4 linked regions of the Homo sapiens genome follow. The protein of the gene in region 1 purifies or fractionates together with the protein of each later gene. This does not show direct contact. Each region holds a gene or a part of one and is shown on either strand. Other genes may lie near its edges. The genes, in order: CIMAP3, DAAM1, CSNK1G1 and ANAPC1.

Evidence for each region.
Region 2: the proteins of CIMAP3 (region 1) and DAAM1 purify together in Homo sapiens (affinity purification with mass spectrometry; 3 studies listed by BioGRID and IntAct, with this or other methods). This does not show direct contact.
Region 3: the proteins of CIMAP3 (region 1) and CSNK1G1 purify together in Homo sapiens (affinity purification with mass spectrometry; 2 studies listed by BioGRID and IntAct, with this or other methods). This does not show direct contact.
Region 4: the proteins of CIMAP3 (region 1) and ANAPC1 purify together in Homo sapiens (affinity purification with mass spectrometry; 3 studies listed by BioGRID and IntAct, with this or other methods). This does not show direct contact.

What each region holds. Positions count from the first base shown.
Region 1 is NC_000001.11:111,342,053-111,349,621, reverse strand, and holds the start of CIMAP3 (ciliary microtubule-associated protein 3), read right to left. Parts: upstream 3,001-7,569; 5' UTR 2,970-3,000; coding exon 2,951-2,969; intron 2,713-2,950; coding exon 2,573-2,712; intron 1,949-2,572; coding exon 1,850-1,948; intron 1,107-1,849; coding exon 976-1,106; intron 1-975. UniProt on the Homo sapiens protein: During primary cilia disassembly, involved in cilia disassembly. Required specifically to control cilia retraction as well as the liberation and duplication of the basal body/centrosome.
Region 2 is NC_000014.9:59,317,646-59,324,677, reverse strand, and holds part of DAAM1 (disheveled-associated activator of morphogenesis 1), read right to left. Parts: intron 4,189-7,032; coding exon 4,094-4,188; intron 1,787-4,093; coding exon 1,453-1,786; intron 551-1,452; coding exon 440-550; intron 328-439; coding exon 224-327; intron 1-223. UniProt on the Homo sapiens protein: Binds to disheveled (Dvl) and Rho, and mediates Wnt-induced Dvl-Rho complex formation. May play a role as a scaffolding protein to recruit Rho-GDP and Rho-GEF, thereby enhancing Rho-GTP formation. Can direct nucleation and elongation of new actin filaments.
Region 3 is NC_000015.10:64,353,165-64,360,663, forward strand, and holds the start of CSNK1G1 (casein kinase I isoform gamma-1), read right to left. Parts: upstream 3,010-7,499; 5' UTR 2,824-3,009; intron 1-2,823.
Region 4 is NC_000002.12:111,860,185-111,867,216, forward strand, and holds part of ANAPC1 (anaphase-promoting complex subunit 1), read right to left. Parts: intron 4,768-7,032; coding exon 4,622-4,767; intron 3,712-4,621; coding exon 3,491-3,711; intron 2,415-3,490; coding exon 2,205-2,414; intron 1-2,204. UniProt on the Homo sapiens protein: Component of the anaphase promoting complex/cyclosome (APC/C), a cell cycle-regulated E3 ubiquitin ligase that controls progression through mitosis and the G1 phase of the cell cycle.

The sequences.
Region 1 (7,569 bases):
TGTGGACTCTTTACTGTCAGGAAATAATGGACTGGACTTGGGGGTCAAGACTCAATGCTTCTACTTCCTTAATGCAACTTGAGAAAGTTACATCACTCTGTGATCCTTGGATTTCTCATCAATAAAAGAAAGTCCTTGATCTTTTGCCCTACAAGTCTATACATTCTGAATAGCTTCCTAAAGCATTGAGAATAAGCCTGTTGGCCTGCAAGGCCTATGTGCTCCAGCATGCCCTCCATTTCTGTCTCATTTCCTACTTGCTCACTACACTCTAGCCATGGCAGCATGCCTTTTTGTTCACGTCAAATTCCTTCCCAATTTATAGCCTTTGCACTTGCTGTTCCTTCTGCTGGGAATGCTCGGTCCCCAGATCTTCACAGGGCTGGCTCAGTCTTGTCATTTAGATCTCAGGTTAACTGTCATTTCTTCAACCCTTTCTAAAGTAGACTCCAGGCCATCACTCCCTATCACATTGTCATCCTGTTTTACCTTCTTTGTAGCCTGGACAACCTACTTCCTGGTTTGTCCATGACAGTCCCTACCTTATGGGTACTGTCTTGGTAGAATTATTAATAGGCCCCCTTTTACTCTCAGAAGTGTCATCGTTTGACTAACAAATTATATGGTCACTCTATCACTATTGATATTTTCTTGTGTATTTGCCTGTGCTCTGTCTGGACTCTAGAATGTAAGCCCCAAGAAATCAGGAGCCTTGTGTGATGGATTTAGTGCAAAAATCTATCGAACCTACAAAACTACCTGGCATGTTAATAAAAATTCATTGAATGAGTAACTATGATTCTACATTCTACAATGCCAGAAATCTGTGAGACAATTGATTAAATCTCTGAATGGTTCCTTATTTAACTGCGATGGTTTGGATGTCATCCCTTCTTTATGTGCTTCTTTTATTACGTACTTCTTTTCCTCCTATTGCTTTTTTTGTTGAAGTGCACCAAAAGGGAGGAGACATACCTGGGATAGTAAGTGTCCTTTGGGTAGTTCTTAAATCGAGGCACCAAGACATTAAATGGAGCAAAATTTTGTTTGTGTTTTTCCTGCTGAGGACTTACTTTCTGGTACCTGCCTGCATGAGGTGTCATTTCCTGTTTCCAAGAAAAAGATCATTATGTTACAGAGTGATATGTATATATATACACATAAAGCCTTCCAGGTAGAAAAAACAGAATCATCCTCTTTCTGTTCATAAATCAGCTATGGTTCAGCCACCTCAAGCTACAGAAATAAGTCTTCGGTAGGTAGAAAACCGAGATACGGGTGTGGTTCAGCTACCTAGTGATACGTAATATATAGGTTGTAGAAATAAATCTAGGATGGGTAGAGAACCAAGGCAACTTATCACGGCCACTATGCTTAACACCTCACTGAGAGATTTTTAGAGATAGTATCTCTGCTCCCTAAGCTCAAGTGTCAGGAAAATGTCGTCCAATAAGAGATTAGGATCCCCTACTGAACTTTAGACTTGCAACCCAATCACACAAAAGGGTGGAAAAGTTGGAATTTGTTATTTAACTGACAAGACAATATAATGTATATAAACACAAGCTTCGAATGTTTAACCTCAGGCATCTCAACACTAAAGCCCTGTGTTGGGACCATTTCTTCAGTAAATTGTTTTCCACTCTCCCCGGTACACTCACACGCATATTTGCAATGTTAATGCCCAAGCTTTTCAGATAGGCTTCTTAATAGCTTTTGCTTAAATGCCTACTTTTCTTTAATTTCAGGGCATATTCTTTTAGATCACCCCCCTCTTGCTCTCTGCCCTTTGCACTCCTGTGCAAATGCATGCAACAACGTGGATAACACTAAAATCCCAGCACATTACCTTCTGTATTGGCTTAAACCTCACAGCTGTTCTGGCTCCCAAAGTATATCCTTTTATACTGGTTGGGATCTTAGATAAGTCGTATGCCAAGCCATATCCCTTTGGGTGGTATATTAAAAAACAAACAAAAACACCAAAAAAAAAAAAAAAGAAAGAAAAAACAACGCATAGTCAGAGAACATCAGGGCCATCGAAATGGAGTGAGCTTAGTGTGTTCCCATCTGAACCTTCTCTGCAAGGGATTATTCTTTATTGTCTTGACTCCTTTGAGGTCAAGACCATAGAATTACACAAGTAATACAGGTAACTTTGTAGAGGGGTGTGGCTGGATACGTAGACTATAGGACATTGCCATATATTCAAATGCATCAGTCTTCGGAGCCCCACAGAGCTGAACTTACTCTAATGCAACTGTCAGCCTGAGGTTTGGAGGAATGGGAGGGTAACTGGCACTGGCTCAGAGGCCTTTGGAAGTGAGGAAGGAGTAGGGATTTTATGAAGCTAGGGCTTGCGTTTAATGGAGGTGCAAGGCGGGGAGCAATAATCCTTTAATCTCTGGCATTGGCTGAAACAGCTGCTTGCAGAAGAACAGAGCGCTTTCTTATGCTGGGACTCTGGAGATCTCAAGTCCCACAGAATTTTTTCTTTTACGAAACTTGGAAACTTGGCTATCCCTCAATAGCCGGGGAACTGAGGAGCATCTAAGGGGAGGTGAATACTCACATCTGAAAAATAACACCCAGGCCCTCTGTGGGGTGATCCCCTAAGAGGGACAAACTTGTTCCCAATCAAATTCGGGGGATGGAAGTGAGGAAAAAGTTTCCTCTGTTGACATGTTCCAAAAGGGTAGTTATCCGCAGCGTCTAAAATAAAGAGGAGAGGCTCCACGTGAGGGACGGCACCTGGGTCTACGTGAGCGCGTTCCGGGAGGGGAAGGTCGGGGAGACTGAGCAGAGGACAGGGCCCAACCGTGCGCTTACAAAACCACGCCAAACTCCTGGAGGGGGGCGAACTGCACTTCCTCCCACTTCGTCTTTCCCAGCTTCCCCACCCTTCCCCCTACCTGCCCTCTACTCTAGGCTTCTCGGCAGCCCTCCTCACCTGCTCTGCTGAAGCACATCGCGAGCTGCTAGGGCTAGCACTTGTGTACTGCGTTGCCAAGGAAACGAAGGCTAGTCCCGTGATTCCCAGCTGCGGAGCGCGGGGAGGGGGAGAGGGCCCGAGCGCGCCTGCGCGGCAAGTTGGGGCGTCCACCGAGCCACTACTGGGGCAGGAACCCGCACCTTGGAGCCCAAAGCCCAGGGGATTGTAAACTCAGTAGCTGGGCTGCGGGTAGAGGGTTTCCTGGATTCGCGGCTGTAGGGGCTGCAGGGTTGACGGGGCGGCAAATAGCTTTGGAAGCTGGGCCAAGAGGAATGCGCTGTTGTAGAGGGAAGGACAGTGAGGTTCAGAATGTCCCGAAGTCTGGGCCACCAGCAAGTAAGGTGAAAGTAGAAAGACAGCCGCTGCAGCGTACCGGGGTGGACTCCCTGGGCAACGCCCCAGCAGAGGAGTAGGGGGCGGAGTTGAGCTGACAGCTAGTTCCATATTAGGCCCTTAGACCATTTTTCCTTTTCCTCAAGCCCCTCCAATCAGGTTGCCCATTCTATCCCGGGGGGCCGTGGGGAGGGGGCGCGAGGTTTTAAAAGAACTGGAGGCCTTGCGTGGACCGGGTAGAATGCCACGGAATCAGAGAAGACTCTAATAGTTTTTTTTTTAGAAGTTGGGGCAGTCAAATTTCTAAGCCCCAGTTTTCTCATCTCTAAATTGGGAATAAAAATTCCTCTATATAGGATTGTTGAGAGGATCAAGATGACGGGATTAAAACAGTTCAGAACGTGGTACTTGGTGGGTGACATACGACAGGTTATTATCACTGAAGATAATAATAACCGAAGAAAAAAAGATCAGAGTGTGTTTTGTCTTTTTTGCCTTTGTCATGGATATTAACACTAGCTTGTTTTCACTCGATTTTTAGGATGGCTTTAGGAGTTGTCCAGGTGTTAGAGGTTAACAGAACACCCAGTGTGACTGGTCCATACTTTGACCCTTTACAGGTGATGACCCTGGAATCCACACATACTCCGCGTTAGGACAGCCTTCAGGGATGATTTTTATAGATCTAAGGTAGACTTTCCAAAAAAGGTGACAGTGACTCCCAGAGGGTGTTTTGGAAATTTGTGGAAGAATTTTTGCTTGTTAAAAATTGTTGGGGTGTTGTTCCTGGTCAACAGGCTAGGGAGGCTAGACATCCTACACTGCATTGCCCAGGCATACAGTGAGTTGTCCCATGTCCCACATGACATTCAAATATGTCCTGTTGGACTCTACAAAAATAATTAGTAGTAGTTATATACATTAACATTGTGAAGAAATTTATAGGAAATAATGCAGAAAGCCCAGTAATATAAAAGGTTGTTATGAGGAGCCAAGCTTAAATGGAATAAAGATAGGGTCTGAAAATTATTGTATAATTTACTCCAAGCATTTTGTCTACTTAAAATACAATTGCAATAATACTGATAGTAAATAAAATGTAAAGAAATGCAATCACCCATTACTTAGTGATGAGGATGTTTTCTAAGAAATGTGTCATTAGGCAACTTTGTTTTGCGAACGTCATAGACTATATTTAACACAAACCTAGATGGTATAGCCTACTACACACCTAGGCTTATAGTATGGCCTCTTACTCCTAGGCTACAAACCTGTACAGCACATTACCATATTGAATACTGTAGACAATTGTAACATGATATTAAGTATTTATGTATCTAAACTTACCTAAACATAGAAAAGGAACAGTAAAACTATGGTTTAAAATTAAAAATGGTACACCTGTATAGGGCTGCTCCATTGTAATTTTAGGGAGCCACCATTGTATATACAGTTCATCATTGATCAAAATGTCTTCATGTGGTGTATGACTGTATTGGTATGGATTTGATGATTTTTACTTCCATTAATAATTTAGGTAATATTAACATTTGTAGGTATTAATGTGCTTTTTGAAAATAATGTTTACATTATTTGTGACATGAAATGTATTTCGCAAAGTTTCTTGAAAATGTGGTAATCCATTCTTACTTTGGTAGACTGGTTTGCTTCAGACTAATTCTCCAGCTGAGAACAGGTGAATTGAATAAGTAAAATATATATGTTTGAAGATATCAAAGATATACCCAGAAAGAAAGAACATTCAGAACCAAAATCTCAGAGAGAAGAGAAGCCCAAAGTGGTGAGTTCAACCTTGGTGCTGCTGTTCCATTGGAACGCTTGCTAAATAAAAAGCTGGCTAAGAAGCAGAAGATTTGAGCAGAACTTTGGTTAGACAGCCTCTGAGAACTCGGAAACAAGATTTAGGTTGGCCATGGAGAAGGGGAAACTGGAAAACACAGTTTGAAGTTTAAGTCAGAACTTCAAAGAGATAAACCCTAGGAATAAGGGTAAACAAGAAATAGACCAGCTGTCAAAAAACCCTGAAGTTCAGCTTTACACCAATTCAGTTCCCAATTGCATTAAAGTGATCCACTTCTATCCTTATTGCATGTAATAAACAAAAGTAAGTATTTTCTGAAGATATCATCCAGAGACTCAACTAATTTTTACATTTTTTTCATGCAAAATGTTTGGCATTTGATATAAAACAAGAGCTTATAATAAAAGAGTAGAAACAGACCCACAGAAAAATCCAGATATCAGAGTCATTAAACATGGACTTTAAAATAACCATACTTGGTTTGAGATTTTGGAGAAAGCAACAGGACTGCAAGGTGAACATAGGGAAGCGAAAGAAAGCAAGGAAATAACATAAAGCAAATGCTTGACTTCTTAGGTAAGAGCCTAAAAGAAAAAGATCAGACTCTAAAAACAAAGTCAATAAAGATCCCAGTATACTCAAGGAAAGAGAAATTTCCCATCAATCTCTGTTCATATTGCCAATGTGATCAACATAACTTAACTGGGCCCATCTACATCCTGAGTGATGCAAAATTTATCAACTTTTCAGTAAAGCCAGACCGAACATCGTATAGTCAAAGACAGACTGTCTATATGTCATGTGTATCTCCTGTATAACCATCTGTGTAATGATAATAGGCTAATGCAGAATTTCAGGTAGCTCTAAGAATTGCCAAAAGGCCAGTTTTTGAATGATGACCATGCACAAAGGAACTCATGCAGGTGTCTGCTAGTACCAGGGAGTACTTAGACAAAGTTTTATAGTGTAGCCAGTTTTGATGAAGACCTTAAGAATTCAGTAGTTTCCATCATGCACATTTTATAGTATCAAGAGGATGCCAGATGTTTATGGAGACTGTTATAGCTTTATGAGACAGTTAATGGCTTTTCTCACTTGACTGTCTCTGAGGACATATAAGAATTATTATTATTCCAGGGAATTACTTGCTCTGTTGCAATGGTCTAATTTAATGAGGATAAGTAGATTCAATTTTTTGTATAATGTTTTAAATAGATTTGTCTCATTTTAAAATTATTGAATTAAATAATAATCAATTCAACACAGAGGAAAAGCTGATTACCATATTTAAGAAATTAAATGACAAGATGAATTTAGAAACAGTAAATGAATCAAATAAAATTGTAGAAGTAAAAAGTATTGTTGCTGAAAATAATAATTCAATGTATGGGTTTAACAGCAGATTAGAAAAGCTGAAAAAAGTGAATGAATGGACTTCCAGTTCCAAAATAGCAGCATAGAAGCAAACTGGCTTCACCCTTTGCCTTCTCTAGAAAACCAAAACCAGATATACAGCACTGGGATTATCACCAACAATATCCCAGAATTCAAATATGAAAACAGTTGCCAGGGCCACGAGAAGTGAAAAAATTCCAAGCAGACGGTAAGAGAATTGGACTTCCACATCTGTGGCACCTCTCCTGCCATTCTGCCCAGAACAAGCATGTGGAAAATTTTCCTCCAGTTCAGTTTCTACATTGGAAAAAGTGATACTGAGATGGACAACCAGTTTTCCCACTATCTTGGGTTTCCTTGCAGAAGATCTGCCCCTGCCTTAACCCACAGGAAGCATCACAGTGCCTGGGGGGAGAAATATACCTGAAAACAGGCAGAGGCAAAGGGAGGAGGCAGGATTACCTAACCAGCCCTGAAAACTCTGTAACTCAGCTAAAGGAGATGCCAAATCAGAGTGGCTGTTCAGCAGTGCAAAGCTGTAGGAAGTTCATCCCACAGGTCTCCTGGGCACAAACCCCTAGCTGGCCTTCTCACACTAAGAATTTATCTCAACAAGGGATATCTCAACAAGGGGTTCCACTTTTGGCTCCAAGGCTGATGCTCTTGCTAGGTCTCAGTTTGTGGAAAGAGAAAGGGACCAGGAAGGCAAGGCCTGAAAGTTGGACACATCATTTCCACTCATGTACAGAACTTAGACATGGCCACCTGGATACGGTATTCTTAGCTGGCAGTTTTTTTCTTTCAGCACTTTGAAAATGTCATTACACTTACTCCTAGCCTGTATAGTTTCCATTGAGGAATCTGTTGCTGGATGAATTGGGGATCCTTATATGTTATTTGCTTCTTTTCTCTTGCCGCTTTTAGGATCGTCTCTTTCTCCTTGACCTTTGAGAGTTTATTCCTTGGGGTAGTCTTATTTGAGTCATATCTATTTAATGTTGTCAGACCTTACTGTACATAGGTGTTT
Region 2 (7,032 bases), on another chromosome or scaffold:
AGGTCTAATGCTAAAACCCACATTAAGTTCTCTACATAATGTGCTGCTTCCCTCATCAACAAAGTCTTACTATGAAAACATCATTAGCTGAACTAACATTCTGATACAAGCTCTTTATGTTACAGACAGGGCACAAGTAACCACAGGCCAGCACTTGATGAGGTATTGCATTACACAGATGGGAAACACAGAAACTTTCTCACATCATAATAGTCTGACTTACCTATCTAATGTTGAATTTTCGTGTTCCCTTAATTTATCTATTACAGGTTGAATTCCTAACATCAGAAATTCATAGCGAAGATGAAGTCTAAAGTCCAAACTCTCCTGAAAGTAAAATGGCAATAAAATACATATTTGTGGTTTTTAGACTACATAATAATCACTTTTTATAAATTATTATTTACTAATATATTTTTAATTTGTAGAAGGTTCTTACCACTCCTGCACCTTGGCTGAGCACTGCATTAATGAAGGACATGATGGCAGTCTTGAGACTCACTTCATCTCGATACCGCCCAGTGCTTTTATCCAAGTCGTTAATTAATGTCTATCAAAAATAGAAAAACAAAGGACTGAAACGTTACTAACCTTATGCTCATTTTATGAATTTTTTTATACTCAAAAGTTAACTTTTTTTTTTTTTCAGACGGAGTCTTGCTCTGTTGCCCAGGCTGGAGTGCGGTGGCATGATCTCAGCTCACGGCAACCTCCACCTCCCGGGTTCACGCCATTCTCTTGCCTCAGCCTCCCGAGTAGCTGGGACTACAGGCGCCCACCATCACACCCAGCTAATTTTTTGTATTTTTAGTAGAGACGGGGTTTCACTGTGTTAGCCAGGACAGTCTCGATCTCCTGACCTTGCGATCCGCCTGCCTCAGCCTCCCAAAGTGCTGGGATTAGAGGTGTGAGCCACCAAAAAGTTAACTTTTAAAATCTTACGTTTAGACAGGATTACACTGACCCATAGAAAGCCACCCTTTTTCTCCTTAAGAACAGTCCTAAAAACTCTAATTTCAAAATTCTTACATCATACATACATGTATACAAAAGCCTTTGCTTCATTATCTCTGCTTGCTTTTTACATCCAAGTAATATAGTGAAATATGAAAAATTATTAATATTGATCCTAATTCAAGAATGGCAAGCTGTAAAATTTTCAGGGAACACCCAGTTTGGTGGGTTCAAAAGATGTGTGCTATATGACATATAGGATGCAAGACCACATTTTCAAGTTCTGCAAATCTAAAGGCCCAGATTCATCAACTATTGAAAGTATACTCTATTCTCTGGTTCTTAAACCTAAGAAGAAGGGAATGTTTAAAGTCACACTGTGAGTAATCACCACAAGAGGACATCTCAAGTAACATTCCCCTTTCAGGGACAGGAAAAGCACGTGTTTGAGCAGACTTTAAAGAAGGGGTGAGTGAAGAAGGCTGAGCGAACACCCACCTGAAAGCGGGTCCTTTCGCTGGCATACTTCTGGTAGTGCAGCATGGCCTGCAGAACCTTCTTGTGGCCCCCGGGAACCAGGCACACGGCGCCCAAGATTTCCAGCACGGCCACCTTCGTTTTAATGTTCTCTGTGCTCAGACTCTGAGCAATTACATTAATACTCTCAGAATGAGCCAGGACGTGAGCCCGGCCTTGAGAGTTGTTCATTAACGCCTTTATACAGCCAATGAGAGAAGTATGTATTCGAGACTCTGAGGTCTCGTAGTCCATGGTCTTTAGAAAGTTGAGGATACATGATAGGCCATCCAAGTCGATGAATCTGGTTACAAACCTGTCATGAAGAGAAATGCACCATGCTTAAGTGCCTTTGGGTTTTATAATAGCCCCTAACAGAAAAGTCTAGAGGGCAGGGGAAAGAAAGATTTAGTTCCTAAAGTGCCAAAAGGCTTACATTGATGAAGTCTTTTTAATTCTTTGCCTCTTCCTTGGCACAGACCCAATAGTCAGTTCTAACCAAAAGTGTGAAAAAAAACCCCTCCATTTGTGATAAACATATCTCAATGGGTACAAAGAACCAAACAACAGATCATATATTCATAAAAAATTAGAAGCAAGAGAATACTCGGAATACATATCTTGTCTTAGATTAAAACCATCTGCTGTTCCTGTGTTATTTAGCATACAGTTCCCATGCCCCCACCCCAATCCTTTTTTTTTTTTTCTTTAAGAGAGACAGGGTCTTGCTCTGTCATAGCTCACTGCAGCCTTGAACTCTTGGGCTCAAGTGATCCTTCCACCCCAGCCTCCCAAGTAGCCGGGACTACAGGTGCGTGCCACCATTCCCAGTCAATTTTTTCTTTTTAACTTTTTTTTTTAAGAGGTGGAGACTTGCTATGTTGCCCAGACTGGTCTTGAACTTGTGGCCTCAAGCAAACCTCCTGTCTCAGCCTCCCAAGTAGCTGGGATAGTGAGTGACCATGTCTGGCCCATGCGCTTTTATATGTTGATTGCTGACGCACTTTTAAGTGCTGATCACTGACCCAAACACCCTATCAATGAAAGTCAAAAGCTTCCTTAAATTCCAGGATATTTGCTTGTTGAACAAATGATAATCTACATCCCTAAGGTTTTGTGACAAAATTCTTCTCTTATATGACATGCTACATGGAATCTCAATATTCCATGTACACTGAATACAATAATAAAGCAATACTTTATTGTTGCATACTAACGTTATTAATATTTCTTACACTTAAGTTAATCAATGAGACTAACTCACAATGCACATGTACATATTAAAGCCACCGAAAAGTTCAGAAGTAACATAACCTGTTTATGTGATAAATTTTCCAAACTTATTTAGGCTTGGATATCGATTAACATCTGAGAGTGCAGAACATATTGAGAGAAATGCTGATACAGTTAGGATAGTCTAGATCTCTGTCATATAACTACACAGTATTTTTCATGAGTCAGACTTTTCTTAGTTTGCATTTTATAGTCAAATAAAGAAAGGGAATCTTTATTTTCTAGGCTTTTCACCCAACCACATGACCCAGATGTAGCCAAGCTCGTTAAACCAGTTGGCTTCATTCATAGCACCTGTGCTCATGTAATGTACTTATAAGAACCTCAGCATCTCAGCAAATCCTAGAGGCATTAAAGGAATGAAAGTGCAGGAGGCACAACATAGAAGCTGATTATCAGAGAGGAAATGAATCACTGTTGCCAGAAAGTGTACCCATCTTTAAAGAAAAGTAATACTTGTATTGAGAAATAATTCACATGCCATAAAATTCACCCTTTTAAAGTGTACAATTCAGTAGCTTTTAGTATATTCACAGAGCTGTGTGACCAACAACACTAGCTAATTTTAGAACAGTTTAATCACCCAAAGAGAACATTTTCCCCACTTCCTCAGCTCCTGGCAACCACTAATCTACTTTCTGTTTCTATGGATTGGCCTATTCTGGGAATTTCTTATAAATAGAATCATACAGTGTGTGGTCTCCTTTGTTACTGGCTTCTCCCACTTAGCATATTTCAAGGTCATTTCATGTTGTAGCATGTATCAGTACTTCATTCCTTTTTTTTGTAGCCAAATTATATTCCATTATGTGGATATATAACATTTCATTTATCCATTCATCAGCTGATCAATATACGGGTTATTTTCACTTCTTGGCTATCATGAATAATGCCGATATGAACATCTGCATACATGTTTTTGGGAGACATGTCTTCATTTCCCTTGGCTACATTCCGAGGAGCAGAATTATTGAGTCATATGGCAACACTATATTTAACATTCTGAGAAACTGTTAAAACCCTTTTCCAAAGTGGCTTCACAATTTTACATTCCTAGCAGCAATGAATGAGGGTCCCAATTTTTCTACATTCTTGTCTACTAACTTACCATTGTTAAAGTCTCTCTCTGTTTTGTTTTTTTTTAGCCATCCTAGTGGCTGCCTACATACCTTTTCACAGAAGAAAATAACTTTATTAAATGTTAATGATTAAAGTATGTTATGGTTTAATTTTATGGTTTTAACTTAAGACTTCCTAGAAGGTTTGACTATTGCAAAAAAAGGAAGGAAGGAGAGAAAAAAAAAAAACATGCCATCCAGGGGAAAATTACCTCATTGGTTTTGTCCTCAGTGCTGTCTTTAAACTCTCTATAGTTTTACTTCTTTCTTCTTCTTCTTCCTTCTCTAAAGCCAGCAGAGATTTTCTCTATGCAAAGAAAACAGAAGTTACTTCTTCAAATTCTATTTTTTAATTACAGTACAAACAAGACAAACCTACAGATTATTTGTCACTATCACTTTAAATATAAACAACAAATCTATGATTAAGTAAGTTAAGTCTTTCAAATTTTAAATAAAGCCTTAGGGAAAAGTTTAGAAATCTTCGTAGAGATGACGTTGCCCAAATGCTTGTATAACTATTCTATAATTACACTTTGATGTAGATACTACTACTTGTATTTGATAGAAATAAGACTGAACCTGTAGTTGAATACAACATTCTGGCAATTAAAGATAATAATACCATCACATTATCAAAAACAGGAGGTGGGCAGCAGTCCTCCTATGCTACCATTCCTATTCCTCAGCCAAAAAGTGTAATCAAGACCAAAGGGATTTTGTTACATCTAATTATTTTTTAAGAGGAAAAATTAATTTGGAGCTATTACTAGGATAGACAATTCCTTCAGAGTAAATGCGTAACTTCTAGAAATTATTCAACATCATTTAGAAATCAGGATATGGAGTGAGTGTGTGTGTGTGTGTGTGTGTGTTTCTACCCAGGGATCTGCTAGAGCAGTGCTTCTCAAACTTTAATATGGATATGAAAATCACCTGAGGATAGTGTTAAACTATGGAGCCTGGTTTGGTATGTCTGGGGTGAGGTCTGAGATGTTGCATTCCTGACAAATTTCTAGGCAATGCTGATGCCGCAGAAGCAAGGTTCCATGTAAGATTGCAGTTGTTATTATAAAATTGAGAATGCCAGTAAGGTGTCTAGACCTTTCCATTCCCTTTCACTCTGTGATCACCTGGTTGCACTAAAGTACCCCAAGTCTTATGACTCCAGGATCCTCCATCCATGGAGCTCCTGGTCCCTTTTCTTCATCCTATTCTGAACACACGCTTGTCTAGTTTAATCTTTTTACCTATTACAAATTCTGATAGAAATGCTTGGCTGAGAAACAGATTGGGGTGACTGTATTGAAAAAGAAAAGCTTGACTCATATCCATGGGTCTCAATGACCCAGTCTCAGCCTTTCTTTCAGGACCATAACTCATCAAGAGTGACAATCAATAGTATCAGCATTAAGTAACTAATGTTAACTAAAAGCTAAATATGATTTCATAATGAGAAGGGTAAAGATCAAAGCAAAATAAATATAATACATCAGTATCATTTATGGCAACTGAAATAAAACCCAGTAGTTTTTTCGGTCTTTAAAATCTTGTTATTGTTTCTGCAAAGTTGTCCTCTTGCTGGTGATGCTCACAGACAGCTGTCACCAGGGGATGGTGAGTAAGGAAGCTGGGTGCAGAGACAGCCAATGAATTCTCCCAAAGCTCCCTGAGACCCATCCCCTGGAAAACTCACACAAATCCAGCCAAGAACGTTTAATCTCCAATGACATAGCTGAACTCGTTTGGACTCTTATGCAATCACTTTGAATCTGTAGCTCAGAATCCAGCCTTTTATGAAGATCATTCCTTGTTCCTAAGCTTAATGACACAAAACTATCCCCAAATTAATGACTACACATTTTACTGCGGGTCACTAGTACAAATAAAACTGCATGTATTTATCCTTTTAAAAATCCTGGAGAGGGTGGCACATTTGAATAGCAGCAGTCTATATTAAGTTTCTCCATACTAGAGTTGGGAGATTTATGAAATGTCAAAGAAAATTAAGTTGGAAATTCCTTTCCCAATACTGTGTAAGGAACATAACCTTTCAAAACAGAAAAGACTACAACATTTTCTATGTGTGATTTTTCAGATTTGGTTCTGAGATTATATTTATCGTGCTGAGATAACTGAGGATATGTAGCTGAACTTGATGTTCTAAATGTGACTTTTCAAAATAAAATAATTTCTACAAAGTTTAAAGCTTTCAAGCCTCACATTTAGGAAGAAGGTTTAATTTGCAACTTTTAGTAGATAAGGGAGATGCCTAGATTTCTGAAGATGATTACTATGCCAAATATCTAGTATGCACAGGCCTTGTGGAGGCTTCTTTGAATGCTCTATGCACTTACTAAATACCTGCTCACATGAGAAGCAGGCAAAGGACAAAGCGCATCCTTGCAGAGGGTCTTTCTGTCAAAGCTGCTAAGGTGTACATTGGAACACGCGGGTCTGACAGAGAGGCACAAATGTGGCCCAGAGGTCATTCCTGCTGGGAGTCTGGAACTTAGCTCCCGTTTGAATCGTTTCTTTGGTGGGAAATCAATAAGCCAGTCCACTAAGCATACTGAACTTCACCTCACAGTCTTCCTCCTTGAGAAAGCATGGAGAAACCACATATAAAGAAAGCCCAGGTCCTTCTAGATGTTAGGCCACACTCTTTATTATACTATTTTTCACTCTTTAAAAGCCAACAGATCACTCAGGGGTCCTTTAAAGAACAAAGCATTCTTGTAATGAGGCTTACATAAAGTAATTGAACTTGTTCCAAAAAGGCTGGCTTCACAGACTAGTAAGTGCTGCAGTTCTCCACCTGGACTGTTTATCAGACTCTTAAGACATTAAAGAAAACAGAAGCCTATCCCATCTCAGAAAAGTCAGGCTTGCTAGGCCTGGGGGTGGGGAGAAGGTGGGATAACCAGGGCTCTTTCACATGCCACAGGGTTTCAAAAACTGAATTAGTGAGAGGCAAATTGGAAAGGAGTCTTTGGGCTTAGACGGATACATTTAAATTCCCAATTAGATGACCACCTCCTAATTAGATAACCTTGGGCAAGGTAACCTTTCTGGAGTCTCAGACTCCTTATCTATAAATAGCACTTACAGCATAGGATGCTGGTGGGACCGCAAACAACATATGAAGTGC
Region 3 (7,499 bases), on another chromosome or scaffold:
GCAAACTTTGTATTCTCACAAACATCTATTATTACAGGAAGTTATTTGATTTTTGTCCTCTGAGTATAAATTACATTTGAAAATAACTAACTATAAGTCACCTCAAAAAGCAAACTACGTTAGCTGAAAATCTGACATATAATAGGTGACACATAACTATATTATTTTAAATCCACAAAACAAATGAGTATAAAGACTTTGGCCGGGTACGGTGGCTCATGCCTGTAATCCCAGCACTTTGGGAGGCTGAGGCGGGTGGATCACGAGGTCAGGAGATAGACACCATCCTGGCTAACATGATGACACTTCGTCTCTACTAAAAATACAAAAAAATTAGCTGGATGTGGTGGCATGTGCCTGTAATCCCAGCTACTCAGGAGGCTGAGGCAGGAGAATTGCTTGAACCTGGGAGGTGGAGGTTTCAGTGAGCCGAGATCGTGCCACCACACTCCAGCCTGGGTGACAGAGTGAGACTCCATTTCAAAAAAAAAAAAAAAAAAGAAAGAAAAAGACTTCATGGGCTGGGTGAGGTGGCTCACACCTGTAATCTCAACACTTTGGGAGGGCGACGCAGGAGGTTTGCTTGAACCCAGGAGTTTGAGGCTGCAGTGAGTATAATTGCCCCAGTGCATTCATTCTGGCCTAAGTGACAGAGAAAGACCTTGTCACTAAAAATAAATAAAAAACAGACTTCATGTTTCTTGGATTTATTTCTATATCGTAATAAGGAATGATTTAAAGGCAGAAATGTATTCGATTTTGTTTTCTGAATATTATATAAGTTTTTCTAGTAGCATAAATCTAACTGAGATGAGAGGTGCTGCTGATGCTGCTGATTTTTATCTTAAAATTACAAGTAGGCCGGGCACGGTGGCTCACACCTGTAATCCCAGCACTTTGGGAGACCAAGGCGGATGGATTACAAGGTCAGGAGTTCAAGACCAACCTGACCAACATGGTAAAACCCTCTCTCTACTAAAAATACAAAAAATTAGCTGGGTGTAGTGGCAGGCGCCTGTGATCCCAGCTACTCAGGAGGCTGAGGCAGGAGAATCGCTTGAATCCTGGAGGTAGAGGTTGCACTGAGCCGAGATCGTGCCACTGCACTCCAGCCTGGGTGATAGAGCAAGACTCTGTCTCAAACAAACAAACAAACAAACAAAAAACAAGTACCTTCTATTTTACACCCCAATTTTAATTCTCTTTAAAGAGACATGTGATGTTAAGATTTACATACATTACTTTTTCATGTATTTCGTGTTAATCCATACTATAAACACCAATATGGTGTAGCTGAGAAAAATCTATAAAATATATTTTGCTCATTTCAATAAATGGGCCATATTCTACTTTATTATTTTGAATTTTAAGAAACTACTGATAACTGAATTTCATGCTACCTACGATCAATTTCGAGAAGACACTGAAAGTCCTATTGTATGCATTTTTTTTTCAAAATTATCCGGTTGCTTTCCTATCTCAAACCTCGTTTCACAAAACTGGGCTGCCTTGACTGTGTATGATTAATGGTAATAATTTATCTTCTAATTCAAAGGTGGTTCCGTTTAAAATGGGATGTTACTTATAATACAGGTAAGAATTTTAACTCATACTACTTATGAAGAAACAAAAGCTCTGGTAGGTTCCATGACTTGCCCAAGGTCAGTAACTAGCAACTGGCATAGTCTAGGTTCAACCCAAGATTTATCTGCCTGAAAGTCAATACTTCCACTTGACCGCAATTATCTCCTTAAAAGATTAAGACACAGGCTCAACAGCAGAACATTCATTCTCTCTCTGAAAATTCACATATCTGTTCTGAGACATCACTACACAGCACCTAGTATTCAGTCACTGATTGAAACAAAAATGAAGAGGATCTTTCTACTTCATTTAAATTAGGACAGGTTTACTGGCAGGTAAGAAAGAGGCTGCAAAAGCCTTGCCTCAACATGTCTTGCCTAGACCTGTGATACATCTATATGGTTTCCCCAGTCCATTCTTTTTAAATAAACACGTACATCTACTACACAAGACTACACCTGGACTAGCCTATTGTTAAATGCTTTTCAGAATTCCACTTTTCTAAGGTAATTTATACCGGAATTAATATCGAGCTGGGAGACTTGGTTGAATATGTCATTCAGGCACTTTCCAAACATCTTAAGTGTCATTTAGGGGCAACAAACCCAGTTCCACTCTCTTTTACATTGTGATGCCTGCCCACTTGGGGGACATTGCTCCTGTAGGACGTGGGGGCGAGGAAACAGTAAAGGAAGAAGTGGGGGAAGCGTACGGAAGTTGGGTAGAGGAAAGTCTCATTACCCACTCTTGTGCCCTAAGCTCCGCCAAGGGCGGCTCCCCGCGGTACCCAGTCGACTCAGAACCCCCACAACCTTCGAAGTCCAGCTCTGTCCCAGCGGGGTGGGTAGGGAAAGAGGGCAATGGAAGCACGGGATAGCCCCAGTCACCCTGACGAGATCTGTGCCCTCCTTTTGGCTCCCGGGGGATGCTCCCCCTTTCAGAGTAAGCCCTCCAGGTGGCAAACTCCCGGTCCACACCGGCTAGAGTCAGTTTCTCGGAAGGGGCGCCTCCTCCGCCTACCTCTACCCCGCTAACCGAAACTCTCCACCCGCTGTGTCCCTCAGCCCCTCCATTCCGCCCCCGCAACCCTCCACAGACACAAACGCCAGCCTGCGCCCCACCCGGGATCACGGCGTCCCCCACCCACGCCCAGGAAAGGGCCCCCCACCAACCCCCTCAGACACACACACACCCCCTCAGACTTCAGCCTACAGAACCCCGACGAAGCCGGGCAGATACCTGGTCCAGCAGTGCTGCAAGGCGCAAATGAGGCGGGCGCGGTCCCCTCCCCGAGGCGCCAAGTGCTTCTCTACCCACCCGCAGCGGTGGTTTCTCTCTTTCCCAGGAGCGGGAGGGAGGGGAGAAGGCGGACGGGAGGGGGAAGGCGAGGAGCCGAGGGGCGGCTGGAGCCGAACCGGAACCACTAGCGCGGCCCCGCCCTCGTCCCGGAGTCGCAGAGTACCCTGGCGGGCCTAATAGGACAAACTTTGGGCAGGCAGCGTTAAACTGACACCATCACTTCCGGGTTATCCCCACGGCTGCCCCCTCCTTAGCAACCGCGTGGGGTTGCTAAGCGGAAGTGCCTTCAAAGCAACCCACCCCCATTTCTTCTGGGACTACCAGAAGATATATCGGGAGCACTGAGCTCTGCTTTGGCAACACGCTCTTACCTTCTGCTCAAGATCTTAGACCAAGTACACGCTTCGCTGCCAGAGGCACGAAACCCATCCCGCTTTTCCCTTCAACTGTACTCCTCCACCAAGCCCCCGTCTCTATATACTCCTGCTCCCTCCCACCCTTAATCCCGTGGCTGACCCAGTGGCTGTTCCTAAGGCTCCAGGCTCCTCTCTCAGGTCCCTCGAGGGAATTATTTTCTGACGGTTTAGCAAGCATCTCCCTCTTGTGGATTTTTAATTGTGTTTCAACCAGATTTTTAAAATTTCTTTCAATGTTGTGAAAGGTTTTTCATGCACTTAGTTCTCCTGTGACAGCCCATGAAGCCGAATGGTTAGAAAAATGTTGTCTTCACCTACATTTTGTAAGAGCTGCACATGTTTGTGTAAGGTCTGGAATTAACCTAGCCAAATGGAATAGGCAAAAAAGATTCAATGTAACTCGACAGTTATTTTAATCCTTAAAACAGAGAGCAGGGCACATGTTCTCAGGACCTCTTGAGACTGCGCCTCGGGGGCGGGGTGGTGGTGGAAAAAAGACAGAAAACAAAGAAAAAGGCTAAAGGGAGCCCATAATCAAATTTGGGAAGGAAGAAGACTGTCTAATCCTCCACTCAAAACTCAAAATATGCCGGGTGCGGTGGCTCACACCTGTAATCCCAACACTTTGGGAAGCCGAGACTGGCGGATCACGAGGTCAGGAGATGGAGACCATCCTGGCCAACATGGTGAAACTCCGTCTCTACTAAAAATACAAAAATTGGCCGGGCGCGGTGGCTCGCGCCTGTAGTCCTCCTGTAAGCACTTTGGGAGGCCGAGGCGGGCAGATCACGAGGTCAGGAGATGGAGACCATCCTGGCCAACATGGTGAAACCCCGTCTCTACTAAAATACAAAAAATTGGCTGGGGGTGGTGGCACGTGCCTGTAGTCCCAGTTACACGGGAGGCTGAAGCAGGGGAATTGCTTGAACCCGGGAGGCGGAGATTGCAGTGAGCCGAGATCGTGCCATTGCACTCCAATGGCACTCCAGCCTGATGACAGAGCGAGACTCCGTCTCAAAAATAATAATAAATAAATAAACAAACAAACAAAAATTAGCTGGGCGTGGTGGCGTGTGCCTGTAGTCCCAGCTACTCGGGAGACTGAGGCAGGAGAATCGCGGGAACCCGGGAGGCGGAGGTTGCAGTGAGCCGAGACCGCGCCACTGCCCTGCAGCATGGAGACAGAGCTAGACTCCGTCTAAAAAAAAAAAAAAAAACCTTCAAAATAAACTTTCATACCGACACTATGGATAAGAAAAGAGACCTCATTTATTGTGTCTGGGTGATTTGGGGTTTGAAAATATTGGGAAAATGAATGGTTGGGGTAAAAGTTAACAAAGTAATACTCGAAAAAAACAACTCGTATCTGGAGGCTGGGTGCGGTGGCTCACGCCTGTAATCTCAGCACTTTGGGAAGCCGAGGCCTGAGGATCACCTGAGGTAAGGAGTTCGAGACCAGCCTGGCCAAACTGGTGAAACCCTGTCTCTATTAAAAATAGAAAAATTAGCTGGGCGTGGTGGTGGGCACCTGTGATCCCACCTACTCGGGAGGCTGAGGCATGAGAATCATTTGAACCCAGAAGGCAGACGTTGCAGTGAGCCGAGATTGCGCCATTGCACTCCAGCCTGGGCAACAGAGCGAGACTCCGTTTCAGAAAAAAGAAAAAAAAAAAAAAAAGGAAAAGAACCCATATCGTTATGGCAGGTAAAATATTCAGAGAAATGCAGTTGGGCATTCAGAGAAAAATGAGTAAAAATCTTCATTTGGTTTTCCTATCTTAAATAGGTCTTCTTACAAGCAGAATGCTTAACAGTAGCTCCTAAATTTGTTTTCTATTCCATGGCAGTGAATATACTTGCCACGGCAGGCTCTAATTTTATTGGTCATGATAACCTCTTTATAGACACCAAAATTGAACTGTTATCCACCTTAACTGGGGCAGAGAGGAAATGAGCTTTGGTCACTTAAACGAAACACCACGTCTATTGGTTTCCTGTATGCATGAGACAGGGTTAAATTGATTCACCATAGGCAATCACTTCAGCAAAACCTTTAGGAAATCACTTCAAACTCAAATGGGTCAATAGGATGTTTAATACATCTCCACCTCTGCCATTGACATGAATACATGTGGGAGTATATACACATGCACAATTCAAATGGAATTTCAGCTCATCCACTAATTGTTCCTTTAAAAACCTGGGCGGGATGCAGTGGCTCACACATGTAACCCCAGCACTTTGGGAGGCCAAGGAGGGTGGGTCATCTGAGGTCAGAAGTTTGAGACCAGCCTGGCCAACATGGAGAAACCCCATCTCTACCAAAAATCAAAAAAAAAAAAAAAAAATTAGCCGGGCATGGTGGCAGATGCCTGTAATCCCAGCTACTCGGGAGGCTGAGGCAGGAGAATCGCTTGAACCCAGGAGGCTGAGGTTGCAGTGAGCCAAGATCGTGCCATTGCACTCCAGCCTGAGACAGAGCAAGACTCCGTCTCCAAGAAAAAAAAAAAAAACCTGGCTGAAAGTGACAAGTGGTAAACATGTTACCCTGACAAAACAGAGCTTGGTATTTCAATTGCCAAACAGGTTTAAATATCAAAAAACTTTGAAATAGTAAATAAAATGAGCTCAATGAACAACAATATATCTAAAACTATGATAGACTAGGATGTTTCAAAAAATTAAAACATGATTATGGTAAATAATAAATGTGTTCTATAGAAAGAAATGTTTTATTAAGAAAATCAAGTTATGATTAAATGTGATAGCGTAAGCCAATGTAGAAATGCAAATTCCTATGCATCACTCATTTTACCCACTGCCTGAAGAAAAATGATTTATAAGCAGCATTTGTTTACATCCTCTCTTCCTACAGCTTTTTTAAAAACTCCAGGCACTTTTGTATAGGTGTATGAATAACTGGCTTGACTCCTAATTCATCACATGTCCTCTATTCTATTATTTTCAACATACTCATTGCTTTGAGATCTCTAAAGATAGATAGTACAAACCCCACCTAAAATTAGGTATGTGAGTTTAACTACACTTTTGTAATTTTTGTGGGGAATCCATAGTCTCTCTCTTTTTTTTTTTTCTTTTTAGACAGGGTCTCACTCTGTCACCCAGGCTGGAGTGCAGGCACAATCTTGGCTCACTGCAGCCTTCACCTCGTAGGCTCAAGCGATCCTTCTACCTCAGCCTCCCAAATAGCTGGCACTACAGGCATGCAGTGTGCAGCCACACCCAGCTAATTTTTGTATTTTCTGTAGAGATGGGATCTCACTATGTTGCCCAGGCTGGTCTTGAACTCCTGAGCTTAAGCAATCCGCTTGCCTCAGCCTCCCAAAGTGCCGGGATTATAGCTGTGAACCACCACACCTGGCTAATTTTTGTATTTTTTGTAGAGAAGGGGGTCTCATTCTGTTGCCCAGGCTGGTCTTGAACTCTTGGAGGCCTCAGCCTCCCAAAGTGCTGGGATTACAGGTGTGAACTACCACACCCGGCCATGAATCCATATTCTTTTTTTTTTTTTTTGAGACGGAGTCTCGCTCTGTTGCCCAGGCTGGAGTGCAGTGGCGCGATGTAGGCTCACTGCAAGCTCCGCCTCCTGGGTTCACGCCATTCTCCTGCCTCAGCCTCCCGAGTAGCTGGGACTACAGGTGCCCACCACTACGCCCGGCTAATTTTTTGTATTTTTAGTAGAGATGGGGTTTCACCTTGTTAGCCAGGATGGTCTCGATCTCCTGACCTCGTGATCCGCCCGCCTCAGACTCCCAAAGTGCTGGGATTACAAGCGTGAGCCACCGCGCCCAGCCCATGAATCCATATACTTAATATGAACTATAAGGCAGTGCTCTCAGATCTGGGCCAGATCTCAAATAGCCCTCATTAAGTCAGTACAGTACCTTCATCCTACAGATCAATATGGGACTTCCAAACTTTTCTCCCACTCTCTTGAGCTGTCTTCATTTTTTTTATTGCCCTTGGTAATCATTTAAAAACTTAACATATCTAATGTATATTGGGGAAACCCAATATGCTGTAACTCAATTATTAATATTTAAATACTACTACAGGAATTAATATTTAAATATTGTTAGAGTTACATTGGCATCTTCAAACATAAAATACCAGAACTAGGCCAGGCAGAGTGGCTCATGCCTGTAATCCCAACACTTTGGGAGGCCAAGGTGGGTGGAT
Region 4 (7,032 bases), on another chromosome or scaffold:
GCTATCTGGGAGGCTGAGGTTGGGGAATCACCTGAGCCCAGAAGGCCAAGGCTGCAGTGAGCTGTGATTGAGTCACTCACTGTACTCCAACCTGGGTGACAGAGTGAGACCCTGTTTCAAAAAAAAAGAAAAAGAAAATACTGGGGCAAGATGTCATGAAAACTAATTTTATTATAGTTCAGCAAAAACAAAACTCTCCTTGACCAAGACTCCCTCTAATTTTGTATCTTCATTCCTATTCAAAGGCAAACTCCTTAAAGAGTCTGTATGCCTATGTTCATTTCCTCAGTCCCCATTTACTTTTTCTACCCCACTTTCCCCCGCCACCCTCCCAGCTTAAAATGCTCTGGCCAAGGTCACCAAGGAACCCACTGCCACCCAGGTACCTCCTCTCTGGGTTCAACTCTCAGGGCCACACTTCACCAGTACCTGGCAATACTGGCATCTCTGTATTCTTGAAATGTTCTTTTTTGTATTCTGTATTTCCTGCTGCTTCTCCCATCTGACCTCTTTTGCTTTGTCTCTCTGTGCCAGCTTTGTCTCTTTCCATTCCCCAAATCTTAAGTTTCCAGGACTTCAGTTCCTAGCCCTCTTCTCATTCTACACCACTGGATTTTAACTATTTGGAGGCCACAAATCCCTTTGAGAATCTAAGGAATGTTAAAACCCTCTCCTTGGGAAAAGGCCTATATACTACATGTACACACAATTATTGAATACAATAATTCTTCAATTCTAATCTAATTCTCTTACCTCAATCACCACCTATAAGCTGACAATTCCACATTTATTGTTCTGCTCTTTCCCAAACTTCCGACACACTTATAAAGTGCCTTCTTACCGCTGTCATCAAACATACCAGAGGCCTAAAGGGCAATCAGTAATCTCTCAAGCCTCCTTTTTTTCTTTTTCAGACAGTCTCACTCTGTTGCCCAAGCTGGAGTGCAGTAGTGTGCTCTTGGCTCACTGCAACCTCCAACTCCCAGGTTCAAATGACTCTCTCACCTCAGCCTCCAGAGTAGCTGGGACTACAGATGCACGCCATCATGCCTGGCTAATTTTTGTATTTGTAGTAGACATGGGGTTTCACCATTTTGGGCAGGTTGGTCTTGAACTCCTGAGCTCAAGTGATCCATCTGCCTCAGCCTCCCAAAGTGAGTGATTACAGGTGTGAGCCACTGCGCCTAGGAAGCCTCCTCTTCATTAGCCTTTTCCCTCCCCTCTGCAAAAACCAGAGTGGAAGTACTTGTAATTCCCTAAATACACCACGCACTCACCAGAACTTTTGTTCTGATCCCAGCTGCCGTCTGTGGTCTTTCTCAACTTCCCTGCCTAGCGAATACCTATTCGTCTTTCAAAGCCCTACCAGCAAAAGTAGTCCCTCCTGTGTCACCATCCTTCAGCTATCTGCCTCTTTTGAGGACAGGGACAGTGACTTATTAGACTGTTAACTAGCACACACATTGGCATATAAATTAACACGTGAATTATTAAAGAGAATATAAAAGAAGAAAGGTCACCCAGAACAGAGATCTAAGCTATGTTTCCCAAAAAGTAAAGCTGGCACTCAACTAACATGAACATAAAACTTAGGAAACGTGCTAAAACCCCACATTTCCTCACGGATGGAAATTAACTGTTTCTCCCCAGAACAAAAAACACCCGAAAAATGAGAGATTATTACTATAAAGGAAGAAATATCAGATGACAAAATAATATTTTTATGATGACTTTTTTTTTTTGAGATAGTCTCACTCTGTCACCCAGGCTGGAGTGCAGTGGCACGATCTCAGCTCACTGCAAGCTCAGCCTCCTGGGTTCAAGCAATTCTGCCTCAGCCACCTGAGTAGCTGGGATTACAAGTATGCACCACCACACCCAGTTAATTTTTGTATTTTTAGTAGAGACAGGGTTTCACAATGTTGGCCAGGCTGGTCTCGAACTCCTAGGCTCAAGTGATCTACCAGCTTCAGCCTCCCAAAGTGCTGGGATTACAGGCATGAACCACCACGTCCAGCCTATGATCACTTTAATATCATTAATATCCTCTACTGAAACTGAGGTGGCCTTAATACATATCTCTATATATTTTTACATATATTAATAACTGATCACATTAAAAGGAAACTTTAAACAAAATGCCATATATTTCCCAAGACTTTCAGCAACATTTTTCTTTGAATATAATAATATATATAACAAACCTTATATTAGTAATCGTTTCTGTCCACAAATGGTCAATACACAGTTCAGGAACAATTGGCTCCGTTTCTGGTGCAAGAAAGGAGCCATTAGAATTACTATTTGGAGAATGAGAAATACTATGTCTCTTTGGAGACTGATTATGGCTTGAAATGTTGAACCTTTGCACCCCTGAAAAAGAGTGCACTCCTAACGCAGGAGAATGAGCACGACTGCAAAATAAACAGAGGAGAGAGTACATCACAGTTAGCAAGGCAGGCTTATATGACACACACTCCAATGACACTTCCAAAAATTCCACAGACAGAAGAGCATTCATGGCATAATCCAGGTCAGAAATTAAAATTTTTCAAAAAGGAGTAGCTATTTAAATGGTTCATGTCAATGTGCTTTACTATATTCTAAAGATTTAGAATTATTATTAGAAGAACTCATCTTTTACAACTAAAACTTAGATCATCTTCTTTTTCGGAAAATGAATGATTATTCAAAAAGCTCTAAACTATGTCCCTGTATAGTCAGACATATATATTTATCAACAAAACAATGTCCCTGTAGCACCAGATATACATATCTGGTCATTTAAATATATATCTATATAGAGAAATAGATACATTTACATATCAAATAACAAGTAAAAAAAAAAGAAAAACTAACATAAATTAAGGCAAAAATAAAATAGTGCCACAGTATTTTGGGAATTAATATTCATCAAACTGTTGCCCACATAGTGGTAGAAATGAGGCAACTAACCTTAGGTCAAGCATAGGCAGCTTCAAAATATGACTCAGGAAAGAATGTGACATGGTAAACTTAGAAATCTTAGTAAAAGTGGCTCAGGGCTGAGCACGGTGGCTCACGCCTGTAATCCCCGCACTTTGGGAGGCCAAGGCAGGCAGATCACAAGGTCAGGAGATCGAGACCATCCTGGCTAACACGGTGAAACCCCATCTCTACTAAAAATACAAAAAAAAAAAAAACTCAGCCAGGCATGGTGGCAGGCGCCTGTAGTCCCAGCTGGAGGCTGAGGCAGGAGAATGGCATGAACCCGGGAGGCAGAGTTTGCAGTGAGTCAAGATTGCGCCACTGCACACCAGCCTGGGTGACACAGCAAGACTCCGTCTCAAAAAAAAAAAAAAAAAAAAAGGCTCAATTGGGATAATGGCTATTTCCCCTAAAAAACATCTCCCCTAAATATATTTCCCCTAAAAACAGCTGTCAACAGAAATTCTAAATCCTTCAAAACAAAACAGAAAGCTTAGAAAGAAAAACCAGGAAACCCTTATACCTTAGAGCTGCCATGTTGGAAATAGAAGGTGAGCGAGAATGTAGACTGGGTGATGAGGTTGAGCGACTCTGGCTGTGAATGGAGGAGTAATTCTGGAAAGGTGAAGTCACAGGGGAATCTCCTTTGGAGAGGCTTCTGAGATGTGCTGTGAGGGAGCTGCTAGTGGCCACATTCTGTGGGGTTCCCCCCTGTTCAGAGAACTTTAAAACAACATTCTCTTCCTTAAGTCAAAATAAAGAGAAAGAGGAAAAAAAAAAAAACAATAATTAGAATAAAGTAGCAATTTCCTTGTAAGAATGCAAGTTGAAGTCAGTTACTAAAGACACAGTATTTCTTCTTTCCTAAGAAGCTCAATCTATTTCTCAAATGAGGCCAGGTGCCGTGGCTTACATCTATAATCCCAGCACTTTGGGAGGGTGAGGAGAGAGGATAGCTTGAGCCAAGGAATTCAAGACCAGCCTGGGCAACATAGCAAGATCCCATCTCTACAAAAAATTAAAAATTAGCTGGGAGTGGTGGTACACATTTGTAGTCCTAGCTATTCGGAAGGCTGAGGCAGGAGGATCACTTGAGCCCAGGAGTTCAAGGCTGCAGTGAACTGTAATTGTGCCATTATACTTCAGCCTGGGTGACAGAGTGAGGCCCTGTCTCTAGAGATGATGATGATGATGATGATGATGATGATGATGATGATGATGATAATAAAACTATTCACAAGTGATTTTTCCAAAAAAAAAAAAAAAAAGTGAGGGTATGAAGTATTAACTACTCTTTCATATATATATATACTTTTTTTTTTTTTTTTTTTGAGATGGAGTCTCATTCTGTGACCCAGGCTGGAGTGCAGTGGCATGATCTTGGCTCACGGCAACCTACACCTCCCAGGTTCAAGTGATTCTCCTGCCTCAGCCTCCCGAGTAGATAGGATTACAGAAGCCACCACACCTGGCTAATTTTTTATATTTTTGGTATAGATGGGGTTTCACCATGTTGGCCAGGCTGGTCTTGAACGTCCTGACCTCAAGTGATCCGCCTGCCTTGGCCTCCCAAAATGCTAGGATTACAGGTGTGAGCCAGTGCACCCAGCCTACCCTTTCCTATTAAGGAGAAGTGACTTGCCTTTCTCCTTACCTCTGATTTGACTCTCCGGAGAGTCCACACAGAATGCACATTTTGAACAGCATCATAAGTCATTACAATAGAGGGGTCAGTATTGAGGAAAACAATTTTCATTGCATGATCTACAACATATTGCACCCGTGATGAACCAAAAAGACCTTAAAAATAAAATAGAAAAATCAGGTATAGAACAATGGGCTTTACAAGACTGATATTTATGAACAGAGCTCTTAAAATTGTTAAAGATAAAGAACAACCAAGCCAAAGAGAGCACAAAATTTATTACTATCTTAAATAATTAACTCTGAATTTTTAATAAATTTACTTTAGGCATCAACTTCCTTAAAATACATTAAAGATGAGAGCATTACAAGTTTTAGCTTCACATACATGCTGTTGCTAAATGTTAAGATTTGTGCTGACTCTCACCATTACACGAATCAGCCACAGGTAAAAGGTCGATGATTTCTTCAACTGACTTATTTATAAATTGCACTCAACTATTCTGCCAAGTTTGACTTCCTTATTGGTTCTGTTTTTCTGTATGAAAGCTGTACTCTATAATTACTATTCAGACAGTGCCGAACAGTACACTGTTGTTTCTGCTTTACTAGTTACACATGCAAAATAAGGTTTTTCCCAGTGAGTTCAGCTTTTAATCTAAAGTACCATGGACTGGTCTCCATATCCTTATTTGACAGGAAATGTTTCCCACTCAGTTAAAATACTGAAAAATTTTAAAATATGATTCTATAATCATAAGAAATACTTTATAAATAAAAATCATGCCACCATCTCAAAATATCTACTATTAATACATTAGAGAATTTTTGGTTTTTTTCATACATATATACACACTTTATACATTTTTACAAAATTATAATCATACTGTGTTATTTGTATCCTACTTGACATCACAAATAAGCAACTTCTAGTTCACTAAATATTAGTCAAAAATATGATCAATAATGGCTACACTCCTCCCTCCAGTCCGTGCCTCCAAGATGACAAAGAAAAGAAGGAACAACAATCATGCCAAAAAGGGGCACAGCCACATGCAGCCTATTCGTTGCACAAACTGTGCCCGACGTGTGCCCAAGGACAAGGCCATTAAGAAATTTCATCATTCGAGGCTGGGCAGGTGGCTAACGCCTGTAATCCCAGCACTTTGGGAGGCTGAGTCAGGCGGCTCACGAGGTCAGGAGATCGAGACCATCCTGACTAACACAGTGAAACCCCGTCTCTACTAAAATAAAAAAAATTAGCGGGTCATGGTGGCGGGCCCCTGTAGTCCCAGCTACTCGGGAGGCTGAGGGAGGAGAATGATGTGAACCTGGAAGGTGGAGCTTGCAGTGAGCCCAGATCCCGCCACTGCACTCCAGCCTGGGCAACAGAGCGAGACTCTGTCTCAAAAAAAAAAAAAAAATTCATCATTCGAAATGTGGTGGAGGCCGCAGCAGTCAGGGACATTTGTGAAGCGAGTGTCTTCAATGCCTATGTGCTTCCCAAGCTGTATGTGAAGCTAAATTACTGTGTGAGATGTGCAATTCACAGAAAAGTCGTCAGGAATCCACCTTGTAAAGCCCACAAGGACCAAACACACCCACCAAAGCCCATGTAAGGAGCTGAGTCCTTCAACACTGAAGACAAGGCCAGGCGTGGTGGCTCATGTCTGTAATCCTAGCACTTTGGGAGGCCGAGGTGGGTGGATTGCCTGAGCTCAGGAGTTCGAGATCAGCCTGGGCAACAGGGTGAAACCCCATCTCTACTAAAATACAAAAAATTAGCTGGGCGTGATGGCACACCCCTAATCCCAGCTACTAGGGAGGCTGAGACAGGAGAATCGCTTGAACCTGGGAGGCAGAGGCTGCAGTGAGCCGAGATCGTGCCATTGCACTGCAGCCTGGGTAACAAAGCGAGACTCCGTCTCAAAAAAAAAAAAAATGAAAATAAAACGACTAAAAACAGACTATTCTCCAGAGAAAAAATAAAATGGAAATTGTACTTAAAAAAAAAAAAAAAAAAGGCTGCGTGCCATTTAATCCCAGGCTCTAGTATGTTTATTCGGGTTGTCTGCAATTAGTAACAACATAAAATTTGAACTTTTTCTGTAAAAGATCAAAGACTAAATAGGGCAGTTTGCTGTCCACATACTGACTCTATCACATAATCTTTGTTATTTCCTACAACCCTTTAAAAGGTAAAAACCATTCTTATGTTGGGTGCGGTGGCTCACGATGTAATCCCAGCACTTTGGGAGGCCGAGGTGGGTGGATCACCTGAGGTCAGGAGTTCAAGACCAGCCTGACCAACATGGTGAAACTACGTCTCTACTAAAAATACAAAATTAGCTGAGTGTGGTGGCACATGCCTGTAATCCCAGCTACTTGGGAGGCTGAAGCAAGATAATCGCTTGAACCCAG